Regions from separate parts of the Homo sapiens genome. Here all the other regions are reported to be linked to region 2. The links are microRNA targets in miRTarBase. Many come from high-throughput screens and were not tested one by one. Region 2 holds a microRNA gene; each other region holds the end of a gene's coding sequence.

Region 1 (3,132 bases), not on the chromosome of region 2:
CCTGCAGCCCCGGCTCTCCCCACCCAGTCATGTCTCCTTAGGGCGAAGCTCCTGGCCTCTGTTGTACAGAAAGCCCTGGCCTGTCCTGCATGTGGGTGAGAGAAGCCAAGCCTGGGGATCCCAGAGGAATCGACAGGCTTATTCTTCTCCATACCTCCAACAGGCTCTCACTGTATGTTTGTTGAAATTGCCCCATCCTCAGTCCACTAAGAAATAAAAGAGCATCCATGTTCATGGATTGAGATTCCCACAGATCGTTGCAAATGTAATGTCATCATTTGCTTGATCCCCTGATAGTACTGATAATTACACAAGGTCATTTCCAGACAGTGGCTACTGTTTCCATTGTGGAGGGGTTTTCAAAGTCTTCCGTACATAAGAACAATTGTAAAGCAGTTTCTGAAATAGAAATCTATTGCAAATAACTTCTTTTAGCTGGACTTTAACCCTTGGGCATTTCATTCTTTTATTTAAACAGATGATGCTGGAGGGTCTTGAAATCTTTACAGTAAAACCTGCAACTTGAAAACTAGCCTTCTGTAACCACAGTGCCCAAACGAAGAGGAATGTATGGAGAACTCCACGTGGATCTCTGATTGCGAAACCGTCACATACACCAAGAGAGCCACATGGGCATGTGGCCCTCAAGGCTGGGTGAGAGGGCTCCCCTGTGTGTTGAACTATGCAGGAGGGTGACGCGGACACATTTCAGGTGGACTTTGCAAGGACTGATGGATAGCTACCTCAGGGACCAGAATCCGTGGGAAGGGATGGACCTGGTGTTCCCGTTCCCATCTGACAGGCTCTCTTTTGTCAAGGTGGTATTTTTCGTAATAAAAGGGGAAGAGTAAAGACTGTCCAAGCAACAGTAGCTGCCAAAGAGAAAATACGAAATAGACACTTTTTTTTTTTGAGTCAGAGTCTCACTCTGTCACCCAGGACAGAGTGCAGTGGTACGATCTCAAGCTCACTGCAGCCACCACCGCCTGGGCTCAAGTGATTCTCCTGCCTCAGCCTCCCGAGTAGCTGGGATTACAGGCGTCCACCACCATGCCCAGCTAATTTTTTTATTTTTAGTAGAGTTGGAGTTTCACCATGTTGGCCAGGATGGTCTCGAACTCTTGACCTCAGGTGATCCACCCGCCTTGGCCTCCCAAAGTGCTAGGATTACAGGCATGAGCCACTGCGCCCAGCAAAATAAACACATTTTATAATTTGTATGTGGAAACATGTTACTATAGAAAGCATTTTAAAGGTACGTTTTAAAGGTCCACTGTTAAATAGTAAAGAATGAATCCGCTAGCGAAAATGTTTTTAGGGAGAACAGCTGGATCAAAAGGGCTTCTTTGGAATTAGGTTGTTTTAGTAACTTCTGTTCCAAAGAAACACAGGTCTGATATTGCTAAGAACTGAAATCGGAGGAGCCAGAGGCCCTTTTCAGTCCAGGCCAACATTGTGCACGGCCACTGTGGGACTGACAACCGGGATAGCTCAAGTTCGAGAGACCAGGTTTCAAACATTATAAGTTCCAGGCTTTGCAAGTCTTTATTCTCTGGGGTAATATCCAGTCTTTCTGTTATTGTCTCTTAAAATTCTCTTCCATGGCCCACATTAAGGGAGTTTGCAGAGAGTGAGGGAGGCAAAACTTGAAAAGGGCCTGCAACACTTTAAACCTTCTCAGGTTCACCCACATGAAACGGCTGTGCTGAGTGTGCTGCCGGTGCCCGGGGAGCTTCTCTGACTGTGACCCGGCAGAGGCTTCTGTGGCGGTGCATGAGCGGCCCTACAGTGGAGGGTTCTCTTTGGAAACAAACAGCCCTGCTTGGTTTCAGTTTGAGGCCACTTATCTTCAATGTGACATTTCTTGCCAAGCCCTGTGACACTCCCCATTGATGACTCCCATAGGTACAGATAAAGTTAAGAACAGGAAACAGAAGGGTAGGATGCATAGGGAGGGAGAGAAGCCCTGAAAACTTTTTTTTTCTTTTTGAAGCATGGAAAACAAATCTTTTATGCCACTCCAGCCATAAATAAAATTTTAACTTCAACCCTGTGTGCTCAGTGTTTCTTTAGTTATGCCAAGGCTTGCTAGAATGTTATTTAGTGAGAATTTTTAGCTTGAGTTGCCACCCAACTGTGAAATCAACTAAATGATTACTTGAATGTATTTAAATGTTTTAAAAAGCAAACATTATAAATTTTTCTTTAATGTCATTTAGTAAGTGCAGTCAGGGAATATCTGAATCTAAGAGCTGGCCAGACACAGGGTATAGCAGAATTACAAGCATAGAGGATGCTATGCAGTAGGATGTAAAGCTCATTACAGCCCATTTTTAAGAAAAGCTTTGTGTGCTCTGCTGGAGGACACAGCCATGTTGCTGCACCACATGGATGTATCTAGTCAGTTCTGTTGTATGCTCGTTGTAGAATGTAAAGTTTATTCCAATCCGATTGATAGATTAAAGGCAATTCCAGCATAGTGCACTTGCTTGTGTATAGTTTAGTCCGTGAGAAACATCACATCAGGAGGTAACAAAGTTGGCCCTGCTGTTTACTGCCTCAAGCTAGAGTAGCTATTACATTTTAAAATGGTTATATTTTAAGACAGGGCAGGTAGCTCAAACCTGTAATCCCAGCACTTTGGGAGGCTGAGGGGGGCGGATCACTTGAGGCCAGGAGTTTGAGACCAGCCTGGCCAACATGGTGAAACCCTGTCTCTACTAAAAATACAAAAATTAGCCTGGCGTGGTGGCGTGTGCCTGTAATCCCAGCTACTTGGGAGACTGAGGCAGGAGAATCACTTGAACCAAGGAGGCAGAGGTTGCAGTGAACCAAGATTGCACCACTGCACTCCAGCCTGGGCGACAGAGGGAATTCCATCTAAAAAAAAATAAAAATAAAATGGTTACATTTTAAATAGTTATACAAGTACCTGCTAAGAACCTCCTTACTATCTCAACAAAGCCTGAATATGTGCTGTGGCCCTTAAATTAGGTTACTGGGCATGCTCTGTTATATCAGAAATGACTGAACTTGGTGGGATCACTGACAGTCTATAAGTCAAAGTTATGAAAGAGAACAGCCAAGCGCGGTGGCTCACGCCTGTAATCCCAGCACTTTGAGAGGCTGAGA
Region 2 (3,132 bases):
CACAGCCTCAAATAAACCAAACATCTAAGAAACAATACTCTTGTTGTAGAACTTTCAGACAGGTACAGCTCCACTGGTTCCCTACTGCCCAAAGGGCAGACACCCCCACCCCTTCACCCTGGGCTCCCTGGCCTCCTCAGCTCCTCTTCTATCCTCACCCCCTTAAGCACCCTATGCACCTGGCATGAGAACCCATGCCACTTGTGAGACACACCCTGTTCTGACTTCCTTGCCTCTGCATGGGTGTCCTTGAACTTACATTTCCCTTTGGCCAGTCCCTCTCCATCGCTCAAGCCCTTTAAGTCAAAACTCGTCTTCAGAGCAAAACCATCACTAGCCTCTCCCAAAACCCACACCGCAAAGAATAAGCCATTTCTTCCTGGTGCACCCAGGGAGGCTGTGACATGCTGGGTTCAGCCTTGAACTGCACCCTACGGCACCTGTGGCAGAGGACTCACAGGCCTTGCCTGCCTGTCTTCCTGAGAACCCTTCAAACTGCTGAAGGCAGGGAGGGACAGCCTCTTACCCAAGGGAACAACCTCAGCCCCATCCCACAGTGAGGGGGAGAGGAAAATGCAGCAGGGAGGGAGGGAGCACCAGCTGCACAGCCAGGCAGTCCTGCAGAATGGGCTTCTCTAAACTTGAGTGGTGACCCACTGTGGGCCAGGATATCAAATTAAGAAGATAAGAAGTCAATTTTGAGGGGACAAGCATTTTTTTTAGTATTAAAAGAGAAAATAGTACTTAGCTTTACTATATGTAGCAGTGACATTTTTCTTTCAGTTTTATGTACATACTGACAGTATACATTTACATACAAAGGTGTATTATCTGCTGTCGGTTCCCAGTCAAAAAAGTGAACAACACTGTGTCCGAAGGTAACATCCTTCCCAGTGTCCAGAATTGGTTCCTTCTGGTGGGTTCTTAGTCTCGCCAACTTCAAGAATGAAGCTGCAGACCTTTGCGGTGAGTGTTGCAGCTCTTAAAGGTGGCACGGACCCAAAGAGTGAGCAGCAGTAAGATTTATGATGAAGAGCGAAAGAACAAAGGTTCCACAGCATGGAAGGGGACCCGAGCAGGTTGCCGCTGCTGGGTGGGGTGGCCAGCTTTTATTCCCTCATTTGTCCCTGCCCACATCCTGCTCATTGGTCCATTTTACAGAGCGCTGATTGGTCCATTTTACAGAGTGCTGATTGATCCATTTTACAGAGTACTGATTGGTGTGTTTACAATCCTTTAGCTGGACACAGAGCACTGATTGGTGCGTTTTTACAGAGTGCTGATTGGTGCATTTACAATCCTTTAGCTAGACACAGCGCTGACTGGTGTGTTTACAATCCTCTAGCTAGACAGAAAAGTTCTCCAAGTCCCCACTCGACCCAGGAAGTCCAGCTGGCTTCACCTCCCACCAGGAGGCCAAACAAAAAGGACAGTGCTGAGAGGAACCATCGTCCTGCTAGGGAAGGGAGTGTGGCACAAAGGCAGGTGGGTGTGGGCAGACCCCCCCTGCCACGGGTGTGCAGGGCAGAGGATGATGAGCCCCAAGCAGCAGGAGCAGGAGCAGTAGAGCAACTCTGCCCCTGAAAGGGTCTGGAGCCTTCCCTCATCACTCTTCCTCAAGTCGATGCTGGACACCCACTATGTACCAGGCCGTGTGAGGCACTGGGGTAAACCAGAGACAAGACAGACAGGGTCCCTGCCCCATGGAGCTCCCAGCCTTGCAAGGGAGCTAGACCACAGATGAGTACACAAAGAAATACAGTAACTACAGGCAGTGGTAAGGGCTGTGAAGGAGAAGCACGGCAGTGAGGAATGGGAGGAACAGGGAAGGCTTCTCTGAAGAACGAACAGAAGTAACCAGAGAAGAGACAGCCCGCCCTGCAAAGGGACAGCCTGAGGCAGGGCCTGTCGGGAAGACAATACATCTGAAGAACTGCAAGAAGTCAAGTGGGCCTGCAACAGAGGAAATGACAGGAGTCAGACCCCATGGGACCCTGAAGGCCATGTTCAGCAGCACAGCCTTCAGCCTAAAGCAATGAGAAGCCTCTGAAAGGCTGAGGCAGTAGATTGAATTGATTCAGGTCCCTTAGAATTGGGTCCCTGCAACAGGTGGACCCAGGACCGGCAGAGAATGCAGATAGGCGCCCCTCCTCAGCCCCCAACTCTAAATATAACAGAAGACATGGCTCAGTTGCTCCCTTGGTGGCCCTGGACAAGACAGGCTGAAGTTCTCTGAGCCTCCGCTTCCCATGCTGAGTCATGGTGAAAGGTCTCTGAGTCTACAGGCCAAAGCCACTGCTCCTCTCATGACTGCAGTGATTTCCATGGACAGTGTTATGCAACGGCGGCCCTTCTGATACGTGGGGCCCTGGGAGCGTGTGAACTGATCGAGACCAAGAGGACTGATGGGACACAACTGCTAAGCACAACCTCATGCTCCTGGGAGCTATCAAAGAAGACCAGGCACCAATGCAGCAACACACACACACAGCCCAGCCAACTTCCCGCAACTGCTGAAACTCCACGGGCCCAAAAGCAAGTCGCCTTCCTTCCTGCTTCCTTCTCTAGAAGGTCTGGCTTTAAAAATGTCACTGTGAGGCAGCAGCATGGTGACTACATGCCTTGTCTTTCTTGGCAGACAGAGCCATGCCTTCCAACGAGGAAAATTACAAATACCACGTTATGGCTCCTGGACAGGAACAACTTCTCCCAATTCACCAAACATCTGTGTGCCTGCTTTGAGCTGGTTTGCGCCCTCTGCTGCAAACAGGGGCTGAAGAGACGAGTCACTGTCACGACTTTAGAGTCCTAGACACTAAAACCATAATAGATTCTTGGGAACCCCCGCCGTGCTCACAGATAACTCTTTCTACCAGGCCTGAGTGGGTCAAGAATGAAGCAAAAACTAAGAGTCAGAGCAGGGCCAACTGCAGGGCCCGCAGAAGACCTGTGGGAGGGAGGCCTGGAAGGAAGAGCACACCTTCCCGGCCAGCTCAGCCCTCACAACTGCCCTTGAGAAAGGCACCCTGTCCACTCCACCCAAGGGAGTGGAGACACACTTCACCTACTGGCTCAAAAGAGTCAGAGGGGCAACAGTGGCAGCAATGCCAGCAGGCCTGGGGTGTGTAGCCA
Region 3 (3,122 bases), not on the chromosome of region 2:
GAACAGGGTGACCCCAGGACCTGGAGGGCCTTGGCATGAGGAGTTTGGATTCGATCCCGAGAACCTGGAGCTTGTACGGATTGTTGGGGGGCAGCAGGGGTTACTCTGGGAGAGGGCATGGAGAGTCGGAACAGCACCCCAATGCCATCTGCCCCCAGGCCGAGAGGTGAGCCCAGCGCATCAGTATGCTCTGGCTGGAGGCATCTCCTTCCCCTTCTTCTGGCTGGCTGGTGCGGGCTCGGCCGTCTTCTGGGTGCTGGGTGAGTACAGGGTCTGAGCAGCTGGGGTGGATGGTGGGAGCCAGGTGCAGGAGTGTGGCCCTGAGCTGCCGGCTTTCCTGCAGGAGCCACCCTGGTGGTCATCGGCTCCCACGCTGCCTTCCACCAGATTGAGGCTGTGGACGGGGAGGAGCTGCAGATGGAACCCGTGTGAGGTGTCTTCTGGGACCTGCCGGCCTCCCGGGCCAGCTGCCCCACCCCTGCCCATGCCTGTCCTGCACGGCTCTGCTGCTCGGGCCCACAGCGCCGTCCCATCACAAGCCCGGGGAGGGATCCCGCCTTTGAAAATAAAGCTGTTATGGGTGTCATTCAGGAAATATTCCCCCAGCATCTTCTGTGGGTCTCTATGGGTGGAGCTGGGAATACTGCACAGAGCAGGGTTGGGGTGGAACCTGGGGTGTGGGCAAGACGATGACAAGGTAAACAGGTAAAATATTATGGGATGCCCAATGGTGGTGAGTGTTCAGGAGGAGAAAAGAGTTGAGAAGGACAGTGTGCCGGGGGTCCCCGAGACCACCCCCAGGTTTGATGGTTCTTTAGGACTCAGGAATCAGAGAGCACCCCAGGTTTGATGGTTCTCTGGGACTGGGGACTCAGTATGCAATTGCACTCACAGCTCTGATTTACTCTCATCAAAGGGTATGGAGCCAAGTCAGCCAAAAGGAAAGGTGCATGGAGTGAACTCGGGAAACCAGGCATGCACTTCCAGAGGCCACACCTAATTCCTCCAGCAGTGGATCATGGTGACGTGTGAAATGTCAGCCAGGGACACTCTGATCCTAGCCTCAGCGCCCTTGGTTTCATGGGGGCGGCCACAAGAGCACCTTCTCTCCAACATATACCAAAATGCCAGGCTCCCAGAAAGAAGGCCTGTGCCTGCACGAACAGCCTAGATAGATGCAGCAAGCCACTCTAGGCCTGCACGAACAGCCTAGATAGATGCAGCGAGCCACTCTATCAGGAAGTGATAAGACCCCCCCCCCAACACCCAAGTTCCCAGCCAAGGACCAACTGTGCACCCAGGCCTGTCTAAGGACAGCAGTCTGTTGTGGAGCCTGCCAGGTTAACTCTTTTCTGCACAGAGAAAGTTCGGGAATGAGTTGTGGGTTAAAGAGGGTGACCAGAAAAGGCCTCCCTGACGTGACATTCACCAAAGACCTAAATTGAGAGAGGGAGCAGCCCAGATCCTTTGGAGGAAGAATAATTGGGGCAGAGGAAGCCACAGGGGCATAGCCTGGGAGATGGCAGCAGCCAGGAGGCTCGAGGGCAGCCAGGAGGTGGGCGTGGCTGGGGCAGATAAGCGAGGGGGACAGTGTGGGAGGCCAGGGAGCCTTGTGGGCCACGGTGAGGGCTTTGGGTTTTACTCTGCTTGAGATGAAAGACACAGTTTGCTTTTGTGAGATGGATTTTGCTTTGTTTCCCAGGCTGGTCTCAAATTCCTGGGCTCAAGCGATTCTCCCCCTGCAGCCTCCCATAGTGCTGGGACTACTGGTGTGAGCCACTGTGTCCAGCCCAGTTTGCTTCTTGCCTTTTGTTTTTTTGAGACAGGGTCTCACTTTATGGCCCAGGCTGGAGTGCAGTGGTGTGACCACTGCTCACTGCAGCATCTACCTCTTGGGCTCAAGTGAGCCTCCCACCTCAGCCTCCTGAGCAGCTGGGACCACAGGTGCACGCCACCACACCCAGCTAATTTTTTTTAACTTTTCATTAGACAGGGTCTCACTATGTTGCCTGGCCTGGTTTCAAACTCCTGGGCTGAAGCAATCCTCCTGCCTCAGCCTCTCAAAGTTCTGGGATTACAGGCATGAGCCACCGTGCCGGGTCCAGTTTGCCTTTCATCATGAGGTGGAGACTGCCACGTGGTAGCAGTAACAAAAGAGAAACACACTTGGGAGGGAAAGTGCCAGGCAGATGAAGACAAGGGAGGTGGCCGAGAGGGCCTAAGAAGTGACTTGATTTTTTTATTTTTATTTATTTGTTTATTTTTTTGAGATGGAGTCTCTCTCTGTCGCCCACGCTGGAGAGCAATGGTGTGATTTCGGCTCACTGTAACCTCCACTTCCAAGATTCAAGCTATTCTCCTGCCTCAGCCTCCCAGGTAGCTGGGATTATAGGTGCCCACCAACACGCCTGACTAATTTTTGTATTTTTAGTTTTATTTTTTAATTTTTTTGAGATGGAGTTTCGCTCTTGTTGCCCATGCTGGAGTGCAATGGCGCGATCTCGACTCACTGCAACCTCCACCTCCCGGTTTCAAGTGATTCTCCTGCCTCAGCCTCCCGAGTAGCTGGGATTACAGGCGCCTGCCACCACGCCCGGCTGATTTTTTTGTATTTTTGGTAGAGACAGGGTTTCACTGTGTTGCCCAGGCTGGTCTCGAACTCCTGACCTCAGGTGATCCACCTGTCTTGGCCTCCCAAAGTGCTAGGATTACATGTGTGAGCCACCGTGCCCCGCCAATTACTTTAGATAGGGGTGGTCTGGGAGGGCTCTCTGAGGAGACACAAGAAGTGGGTGGAGTTTCCCAAGGAGAGGGACAGCGAGTGCCAAGGCCTCAGGGATGCAGCCTCTCCAACCTCGTGTCTCCTCAGCAGAACTCACCCACTCATCCTTGATGCAGCAGGTGCTCACCCAGAGCCCACTGATGCCCACTGTTCTGGAATTCTCCTGTCAGATATGGTGGCCAGCCATATGCGGCTGCCTCAAACATGGCTGGTCCAAACTGAGACATGCTATGAGTGTGAAATGCACACCAGACTTCGAAGATTTAGTATGAAAATGGAGTAAAATATCTCAATAATTTTTATAGGCTGGGCATGGTGGCTCACACCTGTAATCCCAGCA
Region 4 (3,132 bases), not on the chromosome of region 2:
CAGAATATTGACCTCCATTAACAGTTGGCCAAAAAGGTTAGCTAGAAGGCCACCCTCCATTGTGTATTTCTGAGGTTGTCATTATGAGTTTTAATTTATCATCTAAAGAAATATGTCCTAAGATGAAAATGTTACCATTACAGCTTGATCTCTCACCCTCTTCTCTTGTATTATTTCTTAATAGGTGTGTCAAGGATGCCACAATGCCATCGACCCAGAAGTGCAGCGGGTGACCTATAACAATTTCAGCTGGCATGCATCCACAGAGTGCTTTCTGTGCTCTTGCTGCAGCAAATGCCTCATTGGGCAGAAGTTCATGCCAGTAGAAGGGATGGTTTTCTGTTCAGTGGAATGTAAGAAGAGGATGTCTTAGGAGGAGGGCACCCAGAAGTATCGAGCCATAGCTATCCAAAGTGGTCTGCATTTCTACTGTAAAATGCAATTTGAAAAAAATAAAACGCAAAAAAAGAAACTGTAAAGGAAACCAAGAGATTTTGTTTAATTTTTTTGGCCATTTTTTCTTCATCAATTTTTTTTCGGTCTCAACTTTTAAACTTGGTTTAAGCATTTGATTTGTAAAACAGTAAATAATTGTATCTTTCCATAGCTTTTCAAATGTGAAATCATTTTTGGAAGCTTGGATCTCATTAAACTTCATGTCTCTATTCCATTTGTGCCACACACTTAAAAGTTAGTGTACTGAATGGAAAGATGAGCATTCCTAGTTCTACACTTCTTTTTTCCCCCTCATGTGTAAAATGAAAAGAAAACTAAATTTGCCCTAATACCAAGGCGCTACGTTTATTGCCTCGTCTTATTCACTGACCTTTGTAATGATACACAGTGAATTCTTTTTGACAAAGAGAAATGCAGTGTAGTATGCAGAGCTGCTGTTTTAATGCCTATGCATTTACTCTTTCCTGATTTAGGCAGAGGTGGCATTTTCTTTATTGCATTTCTCTATTTTTTTAATGTACCCTACCTTCAGTATTCTCTTTGTAAGTTGGTGACTTGCATCTGTGGCCTTGAATATTTTATTATCACATGTGGCATAACAGTATCCACACTTTTTAGTTCTTTATTTTTTTTTTTTTATTTTGAGCAATTCTCCTGCCTCAGCCTCCCAAATAGCTGGGATTACAGGTGCATGCCACCACACCCAGCTAATTTTTGTATTTTTAGTAGAGACAGGTTTTCACCATGTTAGCCAGGCTGGTCTCAAACTCCTGACCTCAGATGATCCGCCTGCCTTGGCCTCCCAAAGTGCTGGGATTACAGGTGTGGGAGCCACCATGCCTGACCCACACACTTTTTACTTGTATAGATGATTTTTGGCTTGGACATAAAAGCCAAGCCACCCATTTGCTTTTAATCCAAAGAACATGTATAGTTTTTGTACCCAGAGACTATGATTTATATTGATTGCACTTGCCTGCCATGATTTAGATAAGATTTTTTTTGCATGGTTTTTATTCTTTCCTAATGGATCCTGTTTTATAATACTTCCAAGCCTGTCCATGGATATATCAAATGTCTTCACTTGTATATTTTCATGGCTAGGTATTTCTAATGTTTATTCTTCCCTGTGTACTTCTACACATAGCTATGCACTATGAAAATTAAATGGAATGAATGATATGTATATTACTCAAAATAAAGTTTCTTTCACTTTAATAATCATTGTATCTTTTTATTCATATCCTTTTTTGAGTGAAAAATGCTTCTGCAACTAAGCATGTGTTACAGCAGGGGGCGATGTCTCCAAGGATAAAAATTACCCAAACGAAAATAAAAGTCTGCCTCTGACAGGACAGCACAGAATCTAGATGTTTCATTATGGAGAAAAGATAAGGTTTATGAAACTTTCAAATCAGGACTTTTAAGTTTGGTCATGCAAGAGTTTTTTTCTTTTTCAAAGAAAGGGAAAGTAATTTTAATTAAAATTTGGGAGAGCTTATTTTCTATTCAGTTGGATCTAACAAGCCTTTTATACTTGGGTTTCAACTCTGGTTTCTTTATATGTAAAAAATATTAAAAGAAGAATTTTTTCATGGAAACTTATCGTGAGACAGAAAGCAAATGGGGAATAGTGGTAGACTCATGCTTCCTAATGTTAGCAGGCCATAATACTTTCTCCCTCAGTCTACAATTATTTCTGTCATAGTGGGAGTTGCAGTTTTCTCTGATACATACCCAGAATAACTTGACTTTTTTTTTTTTCCAGCTCCTGTTTGGCCAATAGTACTTCTCTTTACATTCCACCTCTCCACTCCCCACCACCACACACACATGCACATGTGCATACCAAGCATACAAATTTACTCCTTCTGCACTATGCCTTCAACCATGCAAAAGTAACTTTTGGAGCTTGGATACGTGTCACCTTATCTAAAGTAATCTAATTCTGCATATAATTTTAGAAGCTAATATCACAAGTATCATTACTGTCTATAAAGATCGCTTTATGGTTGCTCATATCTTTATCTTAAATGGCAACAAATATATTTTCCACAGCATATTGTCCACAAAGTTGTACAACTTAACTTTTCCCAGACATGGCTAAGTGAGAATAAACTGAAACAGAACCCATCTGCTACTAACACGGCCAATCCCTTAGGAAATCTGGATTGCTCTTGAGACATACTAGCCTTCATATTTGTTGCATGGTACCTACATATCTCCCTTTCCTCCTTCCTTTTTTTTTTTTTTTTTTTTTTTGAGGTGGGGGGGGCGGCAAATGAGTTAGGGATTATTCTTTCTTTTCATTGACTAGCTGAAACTTCTATTACTGAAGTCTTCAAGCATAGATTTCCAAATTTGACTTTGAAGTATTTCAGCCCAATTTCACCAAAGGCAAGGGATTCATCACTGATTCATTCTCAAGGAATTTCCAACACATAGCGTTTAAGCTTATACAACTTCACCGTAGTTACCAAAGAGACACCAACACCCAAGATCAGTATTCAGCCTTTGTCTTGAGATGCCTTGGCATATCTGAACTTGTCTTCTGGGTATTCACTTAATTCTTTGGAAAACTTGGGTTTCCGTCAATGTCTCTATAAAAAGGCACTTTGCCACAATTTCTCACTCATCTGCCCCTTCTTGACCTCTGCTGATTTAAATGCTTGCCGA

Evidence for each region. Region 2 holds the annotated microRNA hsa-miR-1827 (UGAGGCAGUAGAUUGAAU, at 2,056-2,073, shown strand). A microRNA usually pairs through its seed, bases 2 to 8, with sites in the 3' UTR of a target mRNA and lowers its output. Matches are read on the target gene's strand: a 7mer-m8 pairs with bases 2 to 8, a 7mer-A1 pairs with bases 2 to 7 and ends in A, and an 8mer does both.
Region 1: miRTarBase lists FAM118A as a target of hsa-miR-1827. Seed matches in the 3' UTR shown: 8mer at 1,006-1,013.
Region 3: the mRNA of RABAC1 is a reported target of hsa-miR-1827. The part of its 3' UTR that is shown has no 7-base or 8-base seed match.
Region 4: the mRNA of TES is a reported target of hsa-miR-1827. Seed matches in the 3' UTR shown: 8mer at 1,111-1,118.

What each region holds. Positions count from the first base shown.
Region 1 is chr22:45,339,908-45,343,039 of GRCh38, forward strand. It overlaps FAM118A (family with sequence similarity 118 member A), which reads left to right. Exons shown (of 9, transcript NM_017911.4): 9 at 479-2,048. The coding sequence ends at 498. Among named protein-coding and RNA genes, the nearest start is that of FAM118A, 32 kb to the left of the region's middle.
Region 2 is chr12:100,187,877-100,191,008 of GRCh38, forward strand. MIR1827 (microRNA 1827) reads left to right here and starts at 2,008; the gene lies at 2,008-2,073.
Region 3 is chr19:41,954,156-41,957,277 of GRCh38, reverse strand. RABAC1 (Rab acceptor 1) reads left to right here. Exons shown (of 5, transcript NM_006423.3): 4 at 159-260; 5 at 344-595. The coding sequence ends at 432. Among named protein-coding and RNA genes, the nearest start is that of RABAC1, 3.6 kb to the left of the region's middle.
Region 4 is chr7:116,257,110-116,260,241 of GRCh38, forward strand. TES (testin LIM domain protein) reads left to right here. Exons shown (of 7, transcript NM_015641.4): 7 at 185-1,674. The coding sequence ends at 373. It overlaps LOC124901730 (a long non-coding RNA gene), which reads right to left and starts at 195. Exons shown (of 4, transcript XR_007060485.1): 1 at 1-195.